Linked DNA regions of Homo sapiens. The protein of the gene in region 2 interacts with the protein of the main gene of each other region in a pairwise test. Each region holds a gene or a part of one and is shown on either strand. Other genes may lie near its edges.

What was found. Proteins that work in one complex are often made in the same cells at the same time.
Region 1: the proteins of ETV6 (region 2) and HDAC9 interact in binary tests that used the Homo sapiens proteins (3 or more experiments, as listed by UniProt).

Annotation. Positions count from the first base shown.
Region 1 is NC_000007.14:18,498,497-18,506,645, reverse strand, and holds part of HDAC9 (histone deacetylase 9), read right to left. Parts: intron 4,066-8,149; exon of another isoform or gene 4,007-4,065; intron 1-4,006. UniProt on the Homo sapiens protein: Responsible for the deacetylation of lysine residues on the N-terminal part of the core histones (H2A, H2B, H3 and H4).
Region 2 is NC_000012.12:11,861,525-11,869,673, reverse strand, and holds part of ETV6 (transcription factor ETV6), read right to left. Parts: intron 251-8,149; coding exon 1-250. UniProt on the Homo sapiens protein: Transcriptional repressor; binds to the DNA sequence 5'-CCGGAAGT-3'. Plays a role in hematopoiesis and malignant transformation.

The sequences.
Region 1 (8,149 bases), on a different chromosome or scaffold from region 2:
TATTGTGCTTATAATAGTCAATTGTTTTTCATAAACCAATTCTTAAACCCAAGCTTCATGGGATTAAAAAAAAAAAATTGAGAAATTGAATAGAATTTAGATTTCTTAATTTTTAGAAACAGATATATATACACTTTCAATAATAGAATCATTCTTACAAAGTGAAAAAAGAAAACAGTATGTGTGTGTAATGCCATATTCACGAGAAGGGTCAACAGCCCCAAGAAGCTCTGTTTATGAGCAATATTAACACCAAATGGAGAGCTTAGCAATGTCTGTTTCTAAAAATAAACCCTGTGTGTCTCTTGTTGTCATCATCAACCAGAGTCCTGTGTGCTCTGAGACAGCATCAAGGCCGCCTCTTTGCCTTTCCATAAGCATGATACATCATTACCAGAGCTCTCCCTTTTCTCTCAAGGTGGCAGAGATAAAAAGAATTCTGCAATCACCCTAAGCACACATTTAAACAACATTATTGCCCCTTAAGCAGACAGTTATCATGCTATTTTGGCAGCAGGAAGGAATCTGTGGTTTCACTTGAATGTTATTCTTCTTTATTTAAACTACTAGAAATAACCCAAAAATGACAGAATGCTCTTTCTATAAATAATCATTCCAGTGTAGAGTTATATTAGGAGGTAACTCATATGGCATGATAACGCCTAACAAGCTAATCTTAGACCTGCGATGCCATAAGATAGAAATACCGAGGCTAAGAATAACTGACCCAAAGGAGTCAGGCTGCTAAAGAGAGGCACAGACATGTGGACATCTGCAGGTTTTAATGCATTTAATGATCTTCTGAAAGCTTCTTTCCCCTAGGAAGGCAATAAATTATGTCAATCATTAACGTGATAATCAATAATGCTTTTACAATGTATTGATTCCTGAAGATGGCTCAAGATTCTCATAGCAAATAAGATCATAAAAATTACCTGTTGGAAAGCCAAGAGTGGGCTTTTGCATAATTGGATTAGTAGGTAATGGGTGAATTTTACGCTTAAGCCACCTACAGAACATATGACATTCATCCAATAAAGCAAAATTAACTCAAGATAAAGTAAAACGTAGTATGATGATAATACATATAAACACAGCCATCCAGTTTTCACCTAAATTGTCCAAACTGGACCCAAATTGGACAGATATATATTCAAAATAAGTAGAAACTGAATTATGTTAGCTAGATCTTTATTGTGGCTAGAGAATTTCACATTGCAAGTTGAAATTAGGATTTGAGTGGTGATATAGGCTTTATTAACCTTACATTTCAAGGTAAATGCCAAGGTGAGTATAATTCAAACCTTTTGGTCAAAATAAATGAACCCCATAATGCTAACATTTCAAAAAAAATTACTTTCTCCTGCCAAAATACATTAATAATAATTTGCTATTTTGAAGCGGGGCTAACTTTACCCTCATGATCTGTGTATCATGAACACTGGCAAACAGGTGCCAAATGCATCAGGAATGCTGCTTCTGTCCAGAGCATCTGCTCCAAGGAAAAGAGCACGCTCATAGAAGCTTGGTTTCCTTAAGCTCCTCTCAGCCCTGGATAGTGCTAACTTCCTCGAATTTAATTATCTAGCACTGAGAACATGAAGTAAGGATCTTCCAGCAAAACTTTCAACATGCTTGCCTATTTGTGCCTTAAACCTCCCAGGATTAAGAAGTCTGTCTAGGTATTTGTTTATACATATATAAATGTGTCCACATTTTTAGTACCAAGCAGAATTATCCTATGCTAAATATTTTTTGAGAAAAAGGGGCAGGACCCTGCCATTTAAACACGACCCTGCCATTTCCTACCTACAGTAACCATCAGTAAATTTCTTATCTCTCTGAATATATTTCCTCAACTGTAAAACACCAATATTGCTGCAACAACTACTGCATTATTAAACTGTGGTGAGGATTAAATGATCAAGTGATACACAGAGAAACTTTTGAAACATTAGCCATTGTGTCAATAATAAAAGAATGACATAAAAATTTTTGAAAAAAATATGCTTACAATCACTGACCTCTAAAATTGGAACTAGGCTGGGCGCAGCGGCTCATGCCTATAATTCCAGCAGTTTGGGAGGCCAAGGCGGGCAGATCACTTGAGGTCAGGAGTTCGAGACCAGCCTGGCCAATATGGCGAAACCCCATCTCTACTAAAACTACAAAAATTAGTCAGGCATGGTGGCACATGCCTGTAATCCCAGCTACTTGGGAGGCTGAGGCAGGACAATCACTTGAACCAGAAGGTGGAGGTTGCAGTGAGCCAAGATCATACCACTGCACTCCTGCCTGGATGACAGAGTGAGACTTTGTCTCAAAAAACAGAACAAAACAAAATAAAATAAAATTGGAACTAAGCAACTAGAAGATCAGAGAGGAGTATGACAGAAAAAAACAAAAACGGGTGGTGATAACTTTCTAACTTAAAATGGATAGTTCCTAATGTAAAAATCATGTACTTAAAATACACCCTTGAATTTTGATTATGAGATTTCAAAAGCATCATCAAGAATAAAGTTAAAACAGTGCTTAACACAAGAGCTTTTTCTTATTCACCCTACATGGGGTTCCCTGAAAACCTTCTGGGTAAACACATTTTTACTAAAGCAAGAACTCCCAAGCTATGATGTCATTTAATGAAAACTCAGTGAAATTTACTTATTTTTTGTTTTCTGGATTTTGGGGGGTTTATTTTGTTTTTAATATCAAGTTTCAAATTTTGAAACAACTTCATGACATTCTCATTTGAAAATGTCATGCCTTAGACATTCACCAAAATGTACCTCAAGCAAATTGAAAATAACATCCACATGGCTGCAACTGGGTCAATAATGAACATACATTATGAATTTAAAAGTTTCTGATACAAGTGGTGAACCATAAGGAGAAGCAGGAAAATAAAGTCGTGGGTATTTCCAACCTTATCAGCATGCAAAAAGTTTAATCATAAGCAAATGACTAGTTACACTCTGTGGTTTGGTAAATTTCTTTCTTCCTTAAAAGTGGTTTTCATTGGATTTAATTAATGGGTATTTAAGAAACACTGTACACGAAAAGCCCATCACTTATTTTACTATGGAAAAGTTAACATTATGATAATGAATGGAAAATATATTCTTATAAAAACACAAGAAGTATTTATTCTTATATTCATGAATCATAGCAACTCAGAGTAAACCTAAACATAACGTTCTCTGATAACACTTGAAAGTGTAGGTCGTTTAGTATTGTGAAAAATGTTGTTTAAATTAAATTTGTTTTGTGCAACCAACTTAGTTGAAGAAGAATGGAACTAGGAACACCAGGCATTTCCTCTTTCTTTGCTTCCTTATTGCCAACTTACTGGGAAAAGAAAAGGGGAAAACTGCCAACAGGAAGGACACCACATATCCCAAGCTAACCACTCACTTCAGCTTCCTTTCAAAAACAGGGGGGACCATGGCACAGCCAACACTCATTTGAGGCAGAGGCCAACATATTTTTGAATTTCTTCTTGAAAGCTTCTTTTCTAAAGTCATTTGCATGAGCTTTTATTTCAATTAAATTATTTTCAAAGCATTCAAATTCAGAAAAAAAATGTTAAAATGTAGTGCTTATCATTCCATATTGTAAAAATTGTTCATGATTCTTAAAATGTAATACTTGTGACAACCTACTGGCGAACACATTCTGAGTATTTTTAAGATAATCCTCCTTTCATATATTGAAAACAATTCATATATTATTATATTTCTCAAAAAAAATTTTGTGTGCCTCGAAGCCAACATTAAAGGAATACTCTATTCACGTTTATAATAAATGCTTGTAAGGCATGAGGCCACAATGTTGACTCTCCTTCCTTCAGAAAACATGATTAATAGCTTAGAGAGATCCAGTTTCTTCTACAATTACTTCAGTCTCTTTATTAGGGGGCTTCTTCTAACAATAGACAGTACTAAGAAAGGCAATCTATTCAATATTAATAAAAAACTTATATTCAATACTAGTAAAAAATACTTACATTAGTATTTAAACAGATATATTATCTTCATGAAAAGAAAGTCAACACCCATAGTTCAACTGAAAGGGAAATTATAAACATAGTCCATTTACTTTATTATATTTGTGGAAACTAAAAAGTAAATAAAATTGCAAAGAAGAAACTTCTTATCACCAATATCCACGTTGTAGCAAATACTGCTAGTGCCTAGCTAACATCTATTCCTCCTGCTTCTTGGTTCTTCCCAATAGAAACTTGAGCAGGTTTAGGTATCCTGCCTTCCCAGCTCAGTCATGGGTCCCACTCCTCTGAAAAACAAGTGAAAGAATAGGCAGGTGATGCTATTCTAGTCAATATAGAATAAAGGATGATCTGCTGGAGAAGTCTGGGTAAGATTTCTTTCCTTTAAAAGAGACGCCAAGACAGCAGTTTCCCCTCTTTGTCTCTGGAGTTTGTCGTGCATAAATAACATGATGCTTGAAACTGCTACGAGTCAACTTGTGACCATTGGAGGATCCAACCTTTGTCTCTGCAATTTGTTATGCATAAACATACATAATGCTTGGAACTGCTACAAGTCAGTTTGTGACCATTGGAGGATCCAATCTTAGGATCACACCAACCAAGGCTAAGACCAGCAGAGTGGAGCTATATGAAGGACCTGAATGCTGCTGCCATTTTTGACTACCTGGTGCTGCCTAACCACCCAACTACTTTATCACATGATAAATGTCCTACTTGTCTGTCATTTTGACTAGAGTGTTCTTTTATCTGCAGGAGAAAACAACCTAACTAATATACCTACTACTTACAATTAATCACTGTTAGTATTTTGACATGGTAGCTTTGTGTGGGGGTGTGTAATGAACACTTCTCATAGAATACATGCCTATTATAAAAAATCATACACTGTAAAGAGGTATGATGCTGAAAGAAAAAGCCCCTCCTCTTCACCAAACACAGCACAGCATCTTTCCTTATTTCTTCCTATCTTTATATGAATTCTTCAGGAGATGGATGGATAGATTTAAAAAATTATAAAAATAAGAACATATCACTGATGTTATATTTATTTTTAAAAACTGAAATTAAACTTAACTGAATTTAAATTTAAACTTAACTGAATTAAGCAGATTTAAAACTGCAGTTGAAGGAACTATAAATGTACTAAATACTTCCTTAACGTAAGAGATACTATTTCCAAAAAGACCTCTTTAAGGTTAAATAAACTATTTTTAAAAATCAGTGCTTTGAATCTTTTTTTTAAGTATGTGTTTCTATTTTAAGCAGCAGGGAGTCTGTCCCTGCTCAGAAAGGGAAGGATATTAGCATTTCTCACATCCTTCCATCTCACCTCTCTCTAACACCTCACACTGGCCAGCTTTATTAATATTTTTACATTCCCCTACTTTATAATATCTGTTTTCTGCCCTATAAACACAATCCAATAGTTGTTTAAATGCATTCAGTGTTCCCTCGTTACTTTGATAATGTTTTCTCTACTTCTGAATTTAGTTTTTTGTTTGTTTTAAGTTCATCTCTTCACTGTGTGGCTTTCACTGTCAAGCAGCCTCTTTCATGTTTGAGAATTTCTACTTTGTCTAACTGTTTTCCTTTTTCATTTACTCTGATTTTTTTCAAACCTTTCATCTTTATGTGTAAAGATTTTTACCTGGGCCTATTCTGTTTTCTTCTATTTCTAATGAATATTTTTTTCTATAATCATTATGATTTTCCATTCTTGATTCATTTCCTGAGATCTATATCTCCTTTCTCATCTCATTCTCTTGTTTATCATCTCACCTTTCAGCTTTTTTTAATATAAAATTTATGTAAGGTGCTCTATTTGTAGGAAGCAATACTAAGACGTCTAATTCCATGGGTTCAATGAGTTGATGTTTTTCTTCTTGGCAGAATCTCTAAGTTTAGTTGGTGAAAGGTACGTCATTCCAAAGAGCTATGGATCGATCTTTCTCCCAATTTAGTACGCTGCTCTGAAGCCTTCATTTCTACTATTTCTCAGCCACAAGAGAAAACAAGAACAACCCAAAATGGTGAGGATACCTACTCAGTTTTCTTCTCTTCAGATTTGGGAATCTTAGTGAGAATCCTCAGGAACTGGTCAACTTGCCAGTAAAATTCTAAGACAGCCCAGGAGACAGGTCTCTCTGTTATGATCAAAGAACCTCTGCATCCATTTTTGCCTTGGCTGTTAGCCTCTGAGGTATGTTGCATTAGGTTATATCATTTTCTTTGCTCAGTTACTGTTGAATATATTGGGTGACAGGGATGGAAGGTATGTTTGCTGGCTGACATGCTATTTTGGGCTCACTTCATTATTTATCAGTAGTGAGAAATTATGAGGCACATTTTAAAATTGCTCATCTCCAAAATTAAAATCATCATTTAGAATATTTTTTGAATTCAGAATTTGGATTTATTTCAGTCTTCCAAGGGGTTTTATTGGATTTTCTTACTTAACGGACATAACAATAATTATGCCTCCTGTGTCATCCTTAGAAATATGAAATACTCATTCTTGTCTCCATTCTCAATGAGCCCATTTATAATTATATTTCTGATTGATACCTATCATCTATCTCAATTGATAACAGACTTGCAAGTGAAGATAACCTGAGTTAGAGAATGGCAAAACAGTAATTATGGGGAATACCAGAAGTGATTCTTGACATGACAGGAACATTTCACAGACTTACATTTTCATAATTAGATTCTGCTTTTCAAGTAGACATAAGTGACGTGACTACTGAATCTAAAATGTTCCCTTCCCCTCAACACCATACACTAAGGAACAAAAGGATTCAAAAAAGGGTGAAGATATATAAAAGAATTTCAGGACTTTGATTTAAATGTTTTTCTTTTATACCCTAAAGTAAGAATAGATGGCCAAAATATGAGCTTTCCTTATTGTAAATATATCTTACATTACTTCTGTACAAACTCTAGGAAATTCCTTCATAATAATTGTTCCAATATTGTCTGGACAGCTCTGCTGCCCAACGTGTTAAGCAACATGCTTGGCAATGGGAGAACACCCCTAATCCTGCCAGCTCCTGCAGAGTGACCTGAGTCAATATTTGTACATGCTTCACTTTCTGCCACAGTTATCACTTACCCTGGCCCACACAAGCCACAAAAGTAGGGATGTACTTGACAAAATGTGTCACTCACACTGAATTCTAAGATTTAATATTATAGAACTTTAAACTAAAATATATTAGTACAATATTATAGAACCTGGTTCTACCAAACATGTTTAGCCTGGCCGAGTCAATATCAAAAAAACATACAACCATAAAAAAAACTTGTATTCCAATAGTATATAAAGAGCTCTGTACAAAAACCATCAATATTAGTGCATAATATCCAATATAACTAGAACAACAAATGGGAACTCTAATGCAATTGCTAAAGAAATTACACAACATAACCAATGTTTTAAAAATAATCTCATGAAATCTGCGATTGGGGTTCACTGTTCAATCACATACTGTGCAACTTCTTTGCCTTTATTACATAATGAGACATTTCAGAGAACACACACACACACACACACACATACACACCCTACTCTTACCTATAGTGATAGTCTGCATAGGAAAGATCTCAACTCTTATCAAACCAAGGTAACAAAATAAATAGTTGATTTATAAGATAACTAAGGCAAACTGATTATCAAAACAAACAATCATTTCCCCCATGTGACCTACAATGTAACTCATGTGGCTTGTTCAGCAAGATAGAACATGGCATTGAAAACCAAGATCTTAGGTTCATTCACTAAAAACAACAATTCTAATAGTGAGTATACGTTTTAAAGACATATTGATACATCTGAACCTCACAAGAATGCTAAGAGGCAAGCAGGAGGACATCATTATTCTTCAGTTTGAAGATGAGTAAAAAAATCAGTACACAATCGGCTAGCAGTGGAGCTCATGCTAGAATACAGAGTGTCTGACTCCTAGAACAGTGCTCTCTCCACTCCTTTGCACTGCTGCCAGGCATCCTTTCTCTCTTTCAAATCCAAAGACTCTGCTTCTAAGCCTATGAATCACGTCCAGACCACTGGTCCAAAAGGGAGCTGAACAAGATTTGTAGCTAAATTAAGACAAACATACCCCTAATTTAGCAGTTAGCTCA
Region 2 (8,149 bases):
GACACTGACAGAGGGTAGGACTCCTGGTGGTTGTTCTCCTGGTGCGGCCTGGGTCCCTGAGCTCTCTCAGCCGGGGAGAGGCGGCGGATCATGTTGTCCAGGGGGGACCGGAGGGGCCGCTGCTCGGGGTCAGGAGAAGGCCGGTGATTTGTCGTGATAGGTGACCTGGAGCGGTGCAACAGTTCAATGGTGGGAGGGTTATGGTGCACATTATCCACGGATGGCCTGGGGGTCCTCTGGACACAGTTATCTGTGGAGCAGAGGGAAAGACAATCACAGACCCCAGTGAGTTGGCAGGACAGGAAACTCCCTGCGGCTCTACAGGCGGTAAATGGAGGAGCGTGTAGGTATGTGTAAAGGACCTTTCTCCCCAGAATGCAGTGTCTTTTTCACTGCTTAACAATTTGAAGGGTGCATATTTTTTTTTTTTTTCTGTTTGAGATGGAGTCTCACTCTGTTGCCCAGGCTGGAGTGCAGTGGCACGATCTCGGCTCACTGCAAGCTCTGCCTCCCGGGTTCATGCCATTCTCCGGCCTCAGCCTCCCGAGTAGCTGGGACTACAGGCGCCCACCACCATGCTCGGCTAATTTTTTTTATTTTTAGTAGAGATGGGGTTTCACCGTGTTAGCCAGGATGGTCTGGGTCTCCTGACCTCGTGCTCTGCCTGCCTCAGCCTCCCAAAGTGCTGGGATTACAGGCGTGAGCCACCGCGCCTGGCCTTAAGGTGTGCATATTGAAACTATTTTTCTATTGCCAGACAACCTAAGGATGTCTACAAGCATTCCGTTAATGACCTACCTGTGGCCTGTAGGCACAAGGAAGCCAAACTTCCATGCCCCATCTTTTGGCCATCATTTAACTCTTCTACGTCGCTTTCAGAGGTGGAAGGGTTCTTACAGGTTTCTCTCTAGATGCTTTCATTGACTTACATTTTCACAACTAAAATTTTCATATTCTCTAACTCTAGGAGTTATTAGTATTAGTGATAATGTTAATAATATTAGTAATAATTATTAGTAATAACTATATCTTAGATGCTGGATTTCACTGTTTAAAACTTATAGCACTCCTGGCTGGGTGCGGTGGCTCCCGCCTGTAATCCCAGTTACTCGGGAGGCTGAGACATGAGAATCGCTTGAACCCAGGAGGTGGAGGTTGCAGCGAGCCAAGATCACACCATTGCACTCCAGCCTGGGTGACAGAGCAAAACTTTGTCTCAAAAAAAAAAAAAAAAAGAAGAAAAAAGAAAAAAACCCCCAACCTTATGACACTCATGACACTCCTAACCAAGAGATACCACTAGTACCCCTATTTTACAGATGATAAAACTGAGGCGTAAAGAAGTTAAATAACTTACCCAAGGTCACACAGCCAGTTAGGAGATTATAGAACCAGACTCCAGTCAGATTCTAGAACCTGTGTACTCATGACAACATCTGTCACTGCAATATAGAAACTATGACACAAAGTCACACCAAAACCTGCTCTAAGCATGCACAGTGGCCCCAATTTACAGAATGACAATCTTACTGAACTTGAAAGAACTTTTGGGAGCACTTTGCTCCTGAGTGCTCAGAGACAGGCAGAAGTAAGGAAGAAGCAGGATGGATGGACACCTCTAACTCATCCCACTCAAAGTTGCAAGCTGGTGACATGTGAGCGAGGATAACATCAGAAGTGTACACAGCTCAGCAAGAGAAGTAGCTCTGAGGGCTGGGTCGGGGAATGGACCGGCACACACCTGGCTCCAGAAGTCCCTGCTAAGGTGCAGAAGGACAGAAATCTGCCCATAAAAATGGGGATTTCTACACGGCTCCACACCCAACTCAATGAACTCTCTCTGGCCACATCTGTTCCCAGGGCAGTCTCACCAAAAGGATGTGCATGCTTGCTGTCCTTGTTCTGGTCAAAGAATTGTCCACAGTTCTAAGTAAAGCAAGTCAAACATATCACCTTTGTCCATTAAGATAATATACATATATGAAGAACACATAAAGTGAATTCCGTAATTTGATAGGGTCAGTAAACAGAGACAGACATAGTGGTTTTAAGTTTTACACAGGGTTAAGAAGAAAATGCGGACTTTTTTCTTTTTTGAAAGTTCTACTAGATCTCATCTATCATATGATCACTGAACAAAAATATTGTTCACAATATTAAAAGATCATCTCCTTGAAGGCAAAGGGCTTATTTTGTGACTACTGTATAACCCACTGCCATAAATTCAAGTGCCTCATCATTGGAATAGCTATCAATAGAAGACTGATTTAATAAATTATAGTATATATCTCTAAAAAATGGAGTACTACGTAAAAGTAAAAAGGAATGAGGAGTATCTTGATATTTTGCTAAGGACTAGCATCAGAATCTATGGTTAGATACGAAAAGCAAGATGAAGTATTTATGATCTGCCACCACTTATCTAAACAAGGAAAGGGGCAATTTCAGTTCAACAATAGCAGAGTGGCGTGTACCAAACTAACCTTCTTACGGGTAGAAATGAAAGAAACCATATTAAATACATTGAAAAAACTATTTGAAGGTATCAAGGGCAGACAAAAACCGGAGAGGATTTCACTCTTGAAAGAAGGGAACTGCACAGAGTGAGGTCCATATTTAAACAGCTTTCCCCCTGATTCTGTTGATCTCCTAACTGCCCTATGCTGCATGTTCCTCCCCAGTCCGTGCAGCACAGGGGCAGTTAGAAGATAAACAGAAAGTTGCTTGAGATAGAGTAGGTAGCTGCCAGAATGGCAGAAAATTGAAGAAACAAATCCCATACAGTGGGAGCCACAGAGGGGAGAGTGATTAAATTGGCATGTAAAAGCTTCCTCAAATTCTTGTCTGATTACCGAATAGCCCAAGTGCCAGGGAGACCCTTTGGAGTTCAGTGAAAAGCAACAGTTGTATAATCAAAAGATCTAAGCGGAAACCTCAGCTACTGGCTACTGCAGTGGAGACAGAGTTCAGAGTTTGAGTCTCATCAAGTTCAAAGGCTCTGTAAACACTTCAGGCTGTTTGTTACCCCAGAATGGCCACAATGTAGGAGTAAAAACCCTAGGACAAGGGGATCTGCTAAGGGCAAAAGGCAAAATAGAAACAGATTGGACCTAATGAAACGTAAGACCATGCCTCTACAGATTCAAAGTAACTGGCCAGTAATTTGATTGCCTCCTAGAACAAAAGTCAATACTCTTCAGTGGAATAGAACACAATCCAGTGTCTCAATGTGCTCAGCATCCAGTCACAATTTTCTAGATATGAGAAGAAATACAAACATGTGACTCATAATAAGGAGGAAAGGCCATCAAAAGAAACAGAACCTGAGATAATGCAGATGTTGGAGTTAACACAAACAAACAGAAAAACTTTACAGCAGCTATTATAAATAAGTTCAAGCCCTAAAAGAAAATCATGGTTGTAATAAATGATGACACATACAGGCTGCCAAAAGGGAAATGGAATTAAAAAAAAAGGCAAAATAAAGATTCTATAACTGAAAAGTATAATATCTGAAATGAAAGACCGGACTAGATGGACTTAATAGCAGAACGGAGATGAGAGAAGAAAGGGTTAGAAAATTTGAAGACAGATCAGTAAAAATGAAATCCAAACAAAACAAATCCTCAGTGACCTGTGGAACAATATCACGTGGTCTAACACACATGTAATTGGTGTCCAAGAAGGAGAATATAGAAAAAAACAGAGTAGAATAAATTAAAAAATAATGGCTAGATTGTCCTCAAATTTGGTAACAACATTATCAACAACAGTAAATTCGAAGGTCCAAGAATCTCAAGTAAGATATGTAAAATAAAAACCACACCCAGGTACACCATAGTCAAACTGCTGAAAACCAAAAATAAAGAGAAAATCTTGAAAGCAACCAGAGGAAAAAAAGAAACTATGTACAGGGGGAGATTATACTAATATACTATATATGCATAGTATGATATATAGTATATATATACACACACACCATATATACTATATATGATTATAGTATATATGATATATAGTATATACTAATACTATATAAGTATATACTTACATAGTATATATAAGCCTACGCTAATATATATAATATATTATATATACGAATATACTAATTATGGCTGACTTCTTTAAAAAAACCTGAAGAGAGGGACTGCTCAAACACACACACAAGAAGGTTGCAGATGGGAACCTATAGGTTGAAAAAAACTTAAGAGATACGTTAACCATCTGCAATGTATAGATGTTGTTTGGATTCTGATCCAAACTGTAAAAAACATTTATGAGATGGTTGGCAAAAAGTGAACACTAGCAGATTATTTGATGATACCGAGGAACTACTAGTTTTCAAGTGATATGATGGTTCTATTATGATTTTATAGTCTTTTTTTGAGACCTATGTTGACACTATTTTTTTTTTTTTTTTTTTGAGACGGAGTCTCGCTCTTTCACCCAGGCTGGAGTGCAGTGGCGTGATCTCTGCTCACTGCAAGCTCCACCTCCCGGGTTCACGCCATTCTCCTGCCTCAGCCTCCTGAGTAGCTGGGACTACAGGTGCCCGCCACCATGCCTGGCTAATTTTTTGTAGTTTTAGTAAAGACAGGGTTTCACCATGTTAGCCAGGATGGTCTCGATCTCCTGACCTCATGATCCGCCCACCTCAGCCTCCCAAAGTGCTGGGATTACAGGCATGAGCCACCGCGCCCAGCCTGTTGATACTATTTACAAGGGAAATTATATATCTGAGATTTGCTGTAAAATAATCTGGGATGGTGAAGGAGAGAGGAGGTAGACCACAGAGGAAGACATGATTGGCCTTGAGTTGATCATCAAAACTGGTGATGGGTACATGGTGATTCATTACACAATTCTCTTTACTTTTGTATAGGTTTGATATTTCCTGTTATAAAAAGCTTTTTTTTTTTTAAAGTGCTTAATTAACCTTGCAAGGATATAGGTTGGAAAGACAAGCACTAACTTCCTCACTTTAACCCAAATGCATAGAAATGCTTACTGGGCACCAACTAAAATGATCTGTAATCTTTTGTAGACAAGGCAAACTTTCCTTTTATAGATAATATGGATGTCAATTCTGCTGCCCATAGAAATGTATTTATCTTTTGTCCCTGGTCCACTTTTCATTTGTCACAGAATATGATCACTGTAAACAACTATTGAAGACAGTTCCAGTTTGAACTTTCCTATATTTTCTTCTAAATGCCATTTACAGAATGTCTCTCTTTACTTAAAAGCTTATTAAGGCTTAAAAATACTTAAGGATGATGAAGACCATGTATTGAAAAATCCCATTTCCTGAATCCATTTCCCATCTTATAAATTTCAAAACGGTCACAGGCGTTGGTCAGTAATCTGGTTACCTGCAGGCTTTCTTTGATGTCCTGGGCTTCAAGGCTTAGTGTGTGGGTGTGCACTCAGGGCAGGCCTTAGGAAGTCTGGGAGGACCAGGAGAGGAAGAACTTTCATGCCAAGGGTAAAGGAGGAACTGATGTAATGTCCTGGAGAGATTTCACTCTCCGTTCCTGCCCAGACCTTGGGAACAATGCAGGAGGGTGATAGTGCTTTGGATAATCCAACTCAGATTTTACTTTGGACTCAGGATCCAGGCAGGAACAGGACTTGGAGGAGCTTGATTTATTTATTTCTCCACAGATATCACTCAAAGAGGAAGTACTTGATGAAGCTGATAACATTAACAGTAGAGAACTGGATCCGAGGGTATTTAATTCCAGGCTCCTGGTGGTCTGGGCACAACCACTGTCAAGGCTGAGAGGCCTGCAATGAGACCCTGCAAGCTTTGTTTCAGTCTGCAAAGCAGTGCCCATGTATGGAGTAGGCTATGACATTCTCAGCCTGCTGCCTGCCGCCTCTGTTATTATAAGTTGGCAGCAGGGCATGGAAACTTACGAGACCAGAGCCGGCAGGCAGAGAAGCTCCGGACACAGGAAATGCACTGAGCGGACAGTGGGTGCATTAAATCCCCCAGATGTAGGAGTCTTCTGTCTAAAACAAGAAGATTTTTTTGGTCTGGCCTTGATGTCTGGGTTTGTTCTTGGTGAGCTGCCCAGCTGGAAAACTGGGAAATTATCCACATTGCCCTCATTCTGAAGGTCTTGATATGGAAGGGAAATATACAAGGAAGAGGGAGGGAAAGCCAGACATAATTAGTCCATGTGGGCACAGAAGGAAGGGAGGAAGAAAGACCAAGGACTGGCAGGGAACCGTCATTCTGGTTGGAAGTGTTTTCTGATCCCAAACCTTTTTCCTTGTAGACCTCTGTCAGACACAAATAATCCCTTCTTCTCACTGCCAAACGGCCTAAAATAAACCAGGACTTTAAGTGGGGTAATTTTCTTTACAAAAAGGTCTGATTTCTTATCCTTTCCTCTTATTAGAAAAGTTTCTCTACTTACAATTCATAAAAATTTGACCCAATTTAACCATGCTATAAATAATAAATAACCAGTAAACCTAAACAAACAGACAAAAAACTGCCTTTAGTGAAAGTTTTGACCGATAAGTTTCCAGGGAGAGCAAAGGCTAAGATCAAGTTTGCATCTCACACACCAGGATCACATTTCCACCACCGTGCTTTCCCTAAGCCCACGGATGCTGGTCAGAGAAGAAGGTCACCAGGGAGACGCAAATCAACAGGCCCAGGAGGTAATGCTCACTCAAGCCTCAGTCCACTGGGTTTCACTTTCTCCCTCTCCCAGTCATTTTGTTAAAAATTAGTGGGAAGTATGAATGATACACAGAGCTAGACAGAAGTCATAAGCTCAAGGTCTTGAGGTGGAATTCAAACTATATTTCATATACCACTCCCGGTCTCTTATGCCCATTATGGGTTGACTATCTCTCCCCCAAAATTCATAAGTTGAAGTCCTAACCCCTAGTACCCTCAGGATGTGATCTTATTTGGAAAGACGGTCCTTGCAGATGTAATTAGTTAGGATGAGGTCATTTTAAACATCCAATATGACTGGTGTCTTTATAAAAAGTATACTCTGGACTTCCAGACATACACAGGGGAAGAATGCAGGTGAAGATGAAGGCAGAGACCTCCAAGGCAAGGAATGCCAAAGCTTGCCAGCAAACCACCAGAAACGAGAAGAGAGTCATGGAACAGATCCTACCTCACAGCTCTCTCAGAAGGAACCAACTCTGGCACACGTTGACCTTGGACTTCTAGCCCCCAGAAAAGTGAGATAATAAATATCTGTTGTTTAAGCCACCCCGTTTGGGGTACTTTGTTACAGCGGCCCTAGCTAACTAATACACCCCCTACTCCAGTTACCTGACGTTCAACCTTTGCTTGGTTTGGAGTCTTTCCACTAACTGTGTACCTGGCATTTCAGCCTATTCATCCCCACAATGTGCCAATGTCACCGAACTCCCTTGGAGGGCCTGAGAAGAAAACTGCCCTAGTTTGGAGTGGATGATTCACATATGTTTGAGGTTATCAACAATAAACCCTAGGTAAGCTCCTAGAATTTTATAAGCATTTGATGAAAGGGGCTAAACAAAACAAAATGGGTAACCTGTAGTACTCTGAGGCTTAATCTTCATTACTGCAGGCCTGGGCAGGACTGCTTTCAAACAGGCCACCTTTCCAGGGGATCAGTACAGAGAGTACATGCACATCTGCTGACACAGGAGGCCTCACAGTCCTCACAGTCGGGGCTGCAGACTGTCTTGCTCTTCACAGGCAGTATAGGGGAGTCTCCTTTGTCTCCATAAAGCAGCACAAAAGAAGTGAATTAAAAAATCAAAGGATTGGATTTCCAATAAGTCAATTAGGTCTGTTTGGGTAATCCTCTCAATCATGTATAAGGCCTGGGGTCACAGGTGGCACAGAGATAAGGCAGAGAGGCCCTGGAGTGGGGAAAAGAGCAAGATGACCCCTTAACTGAGGGCTTCCTTCTCTGGAGATGAAATCAAACTGCTCCCAGCCCCTTATCTCAAAGATCAGATGGCATTTCCCTAGGGGTAAAGGAAGTCTCTTGGAGACTTCCTGCCTGTCTTGTGAGAGTCATTCATGCATATTAGGGATCTCTTGCCCCTAAAACTTCTGGCTTAAGAGAGCACGCTAGCCCTAGGGCTAAAAGCAGCCTCCAGTTGGAGGACCCTGGTGCAG